Linked DNA regions of Homo sapiens: region 1 is linked to region 2. The links come from fine-mapping of genetic effects on gene expression. A gene starts in region 2. The other region holds a variant in brackets. All regions are shown on one strand. Distances are between the middles of the regions.

What was found. PIP is the estimated chance that this variant, and not a neighbour inherited with it, causes the effect.
Region 1: its variant is fine-mapped to the expression of ATP5MC1 in prefrontal cortex (GTEx, PIP 0.98).

What each region holds. Positions count from the first base shown.
Region 1 is chr17:48,795,198-48,797,697 of GRCh38, forward strand. TTLL6 (tubulin tyrosine ligase like 6) reads right to left here. Exons shown (of 16, transcript NM_001130918.3): 7 at 1,864-2,007; 8 at 864-949. Among named protein-coding and RNA genes, the nearest start is that of TTLL6, 21 kb to the right of the region's middle. The variant C/A (reference allele first, on the strand shown) is at 996.
Region 2 is chr17:48,891,706-48,894,205 of GRCh38, forward strand. It overlaps ATP5MC1 (ATP synthase membrane subunit c locus 1), which reads left to right and starts at 1,082. Exons shown (of 5, transcript NM_005175.3): 1 at 1,082-1,205; 2 at 1,704-1,751. The coding sequence starts at 1,713. It overlaps LOC105371814 (a long non-coding RNA gene), which reads right to left. Exons shown (of 4, transcript NR_135674.1): 2 at 542-972. RefSeq lists enhancers at 1-877, 515-974, 985-1,104, 1,685-1,794, 1,835-1,884.

The sequences.
Region 1 (2,500 bases), 97 kb before region 2:
TGCCTATAGTCTCAGCTACTTGGGAGGCTGAGGCAGGAGAATTGCTTTAACCCGGGAGGCAGAGGTTGCAGTGAGCCAAGATCGCACCACTGCACTCCAGCCTGGCGACAGAGCAAGACTCAGTCTCAAAAGAAAAAAAAAAAAAAGAAAAGAAAAGAAAAATTCAGCAATAAAAAATGCACAGAAAGCACCAAGCACAGACCCCAACACACATGAAGCCTCAGAAATACTTGCTCCTTTTCCCTTTCCTCCTTCACCTGGTCAAGTTCACATTCTTCAGTCCCCCGTTTTCTTAAAACTCAAATGAGACCCGATTAGACAATAACAGGAATGGAAAAGCCTCTCGTGAAGATACTCTCATGAACTGCTCTCAATTTCCCCCCTTCTGAGGAATCTTCAAGCCGGCTAGCCACATGTCAGGGCACTGTGACACATCATTTGAGAATCTCTAATGGAGCAACGTCCAGGGGAACATGGGCCAAGCAATGACTGCCTGGCAAGTCCTTCTCACGTGGCAGACTAGCGATCAATAAATATCTGTTGATTTGGAAATATCAGAAGGGCCAACTGTAATAAGGGTATGTTTTGGTGTGTGTATATATTCTGCTGGGGAAACAGCTCATGTTTATCTCTCCTCCTCCCAGCCTCCCAGGGTTTACGATGGGGCCTTCTTTTAATGATTAACAGCCAAGAGGGCAGAGATGAAGGAATTTGTTCTGGGTTGCGAGGCAAAGGAGTATATTCTCAGACCATGTGACCCAAGATGGAAACACTGATGGGGACTAACAGGGTTTGGGTAGAATCCCAGAAAGCAGTTCTGAGGTTGGTAGGGAAAGGAAAGAAAAATGAAGCCTCTTCCTTACCTCTTACTGCCAGAGTGTGCATCTCGACTGAAATTTGAACTGTGCTTATTAATGGAATAATTAGTCAGGTGCATGCAGATATCATCCTGGGGAAAAAGACACACATCTGTCGGGTCAGCTCGGAAGGGCAGG[C/A]CCCCTGCTTCCTCTCTGTGCCCTCCCATGGCCCCTGGGGCTTGAAGGGATGGAAAGAAAGGGAAGTTTTAGGGCTTATTTAGTGTGGCAAAATACAGGAAGTAAGAAGGGGTGTCCTGCAGCCTCGAGCCTAAGAAACTCCAATTCTGCTGGGCGTGGTGGCTCATGCCTGTAATCCCAGCACTCTGGGAGGCTGAGGCAGGCAGATCACGAGGTCAGGAGTTCAAGACCAGCCTGACCAACATGGTGAAATCCCATCTCTACTGAAAATACAAAAATTAGCCGGGGATGTGGTGCACACCTGTAATCCCAGCTACTTAGGAGGCTAAGGTAAGAGACTCGCTTGAACCCAGGAGGCAGAGGTTGCAATGAGCCGAGATCATGCCACTGCACTCCAGCCTAGGCGACAAAGCGAGACTCCATCTCAAAAAAAAAAAAAAGAAACTCCAGTTCTTTCTGAGATTGGGTGGTGCCCAGCCTGAGAAAAACTTCAGGAGTCCTGGGGGTCCAGGAAAGGTGGGGATGGCAGGGTTGCTCATCCACGGCCTTTTCTCCTTGATTACCCCTGAACTGTGGTTCTGGCTTTGGAGTCAGGCAGACCTGGCCACAAGCCCCAGACTCACCTCTTCCTAGCTGTGTGACCTTGGACAAGTCCCTTATGCTCTGGGTTTTAATCTCGTCATCTGTAAAATGGGGATAATAATCCCTCTCTCTGAGGGATCCTGGCAGCGCTAAATGAAACCCGGCACATAGCAAGTGCTCAACAAATGACACTCACAATGTCTTGAGGATGTGGATTTAACTAGAATTTTTTTTTTTTTAATCACGCTATGGGGGTAGGGTGAGGTAGTGTGTCTCCTTAGCTCACCAGGTTGTCTGTGCAAGGGCGGGAGTAAGAGGTCGTCGCAAAGCGGGCCAGTCCTTCATTGTACACAAAAATCCTGAGAGGGTCACAGGATGTCACCAGTACATAAATCCGTAGGTCAAACTTAAACCCATCAATGATAAAGGGCTGGAAGGAGAGAACAGAAGTCAGACATGCATTAGAGGAGAAATTTACACTTGAAAATCACTAGCTCCCGCCTTGTTTCCATGGAGTTGGCTCCAACATTGCCTAGTGTTGTGGAGGGCAGGCTTGTCCAGGGTCAGAGAGAGGAACAAGGAGACTTGGGCTCTGTGTCCCAACATGTGACCCTGTGGAGGTCACTAAACCACACTGTGCCTTGGTTTCCTGATCTGTCAAGTGACACAAGTAACCACCTCTAAGAGGCACCTTGGCAACTAAACAAAGTAACATTAAAAAGTCCTCTGAAGCCAGGCGTGGTGGCTCATGCCTGTAACTCTAGCACTTTGGGAGTCTGAGGCGGATGGATGATCTGAGGTCAGGAGTTCGAGACCAGCCTGGCCAACATGGCAAAACCCCGTCTGTACTAAAAATACAAAAATTTGCCAGGCGCGGTGGTGGGCCCCTGTAATCCCAGCTACTCAGGAGGCTGAGGCAGGAG
Region 2 (2,500 bases):
CGTTTAAACTTATATTTCTTTGATTAGGAAGGCTGACATTCGTTCCTGCAATTCATATTTCTTCCTTACTGAATTGCCTGTTCCTATCCTTTGCTCGTTTTTCTATAGGGATATTATTTCATTCTTTCAGTGTTGTTTTTACAAAATAAACAATTTTTTTGTTTGTTTTTTCCCCCGAGACGGAATCCTGCTCAGTTGCCCAGGCTGGAGTGCAGTGGCGCGATCTCGGCTCCCTGCAACCTCGGCCTCCCGGGTTCAAGCGATTCTCCTGCCTCAGCCTCCCAAGTAGCTGGGATTACAGGCACGCGCCACCACCATGCCCGGCTAATTTTTGTATTCTTAGTAGAGACGGGGTTTCACCATGCTGGTCAGGCTGATCTCGAACTCCTGACCTCAGGTGATCCGCCCGCCTCGGCCTCCCAAAGTGCTGGGATTACAGGCGTGAGCCACTGCACCCGGCCCAACAAATGTTTTAGAAAGCCATCTGGATGATAGTCCATGACTGCTGAACACCGGCTGAGGTCCACAAAACTGCGCTCACCGCTTGGGGACTTTCCAGCCGGCCTTTACTCTCCATGGAAAGCGGTCTTTCCACAAACCTCCACGGTGGGAATTACTGCAAAGGCATCGGCTCTCCCGGCCTAGAATATCTCGCGGGATCTCAGCTGTCCTTGGGCCCCCCCCCTCAGCGCAACTACCAATCCCAACATGCAACGCGCCCCGTGGCCCAAGCGCCCGAATGAAGGCTCGGGGCCAAAGTCATGTGTCTGACTGCGTCACACGTCCCGTCATCTCTCCCACGCCTTTTTCTTCAGCGTACACCTTGGTCGCCATCTTGTGCGCGAGGTTATGGAACCTCTGAGTCCCGCCAACTCTATGGTCGAGCGTTTCAGGGATCGGCCAATCGTAATCCAGATCTCGTAGGAAAGCCCCGCCTCTATCCGCATGGAGGCGGGAATTGCCACGAAGCTCCTGTGGAGGGAGAGGAAGCAGCTGCGGAAAGCCAATAAGAGTGGGGAATCGATGACGTCAACCAATGGGGACGCGGGGATATTACGGCCAATGAGAATGGAGAAGGTCCAGGACACGTGGGTGGGGGAAGCTGAGCGCTGAGACCAAGGGCTAAAGCTGGGAGGTGAGTCTGTCACCTTGAGCCGGGCGAGCGCTGTGGGCCAAGCAGGGGTTGCAGGGTAGTAGGAGTGCAGGTGACTTGGGGCCGGGAGCCAGCAATAGGCAGGGTTGTGGGCTGGGCAGTGTGGAGGGGTATTTCCCCCCAGTGCTGGGAGAGGCTATGGCAATCTAGATATGGCCTTATCAATGAATGTTAATTACCAACGGTAATGAACGATTGACTGCCTCGGCTGGGGCGGGTCGGGGACTGCTGTGTAAGATGGGCAGGATCCTGCGCGACACCTGCCCAGTATCCGCCTCCAGTCTTCCCGAGAGACCATTCCCTTTCGCAACATTTCCTTCCTGGGGCTTGGGCACATTTCCTTGACTTCCGATCTCCATGACTTTGCTTTGAAGACCCACTGCTCTGTCCCTCTGACCTCTAATGCCCTCCTCAGCTGGGGCACGGTGCAAGGAAGAGCGTGGTCTAGGGAGGACGGACGGGGGTGAAGGGGACGACCAAAGGTCGTCATTATAAGCAAACAACCAGGGTCTCAGTGGGATTATTATTACTATTTTTTCCCCCTCTGCAGACTGAAAAAATGCAGACCGCCGGGGCATTATTCATTTCTCCAGCTCTGGTAAGGTGCCGCGCCGCAGTGCTCTGTAGTACCAGGTGTATGGTGTGGACGCCATCAGTGTTTAATGAATGAACCCAGGGGAGCTTGGCGTCCTGATGATGTAGGCTCTTTGAGGTGGCTGTAGGATGTGATGAAGGTAACCCCTGTTTATCTGGGCCTGTGAACCAAGCTATCTTGGCTTTGGAATGTGGTCAGAGAGTCTGGATTTGATTTTTATCCCCAGTCTGTCCTGGCCATAGAGACAGCCCACTAAAACAGTGGTTTTCAACAGTGGCTGCACGTTAGAATCATCCAGGGAACTTTTTAAAATCCTGATGCCTAGGCTGCACCTTAGACCATTTGCATCAGACTTTGGGAATGGGGGTGGAACCCAGGCATCTGTATCTTTTAAGACTTCTCCAGATGATTCCACCGTGCAGCCAAGTTTGAGAACCACTGCACTAAAAATTATTTCAAAAAAGCCATGTTACAGATGGCTCTCCTTGGATGGCTATTCCAGTCGGTTTCCGGGGCTGACTGGCCCACTCCATTTAGGGTGTGTAGCTGTGAGTGTATTTTAGCAGAATAAAATTTCCCCCATCTGATTACTTGGTGATCTGGGTATAAACCTTTCCTGTACCTGCTTTGGTATTAGTGTGGGTTCTTGTTCCATTCTGAGAAGCTGATTAAAGCTGTGCCCAAAGAAGTGAACTTTGGTTTGGTTTTGAATGGTGAAGGTTGCCACTGCTGACTATATCAAGCTATTGAGA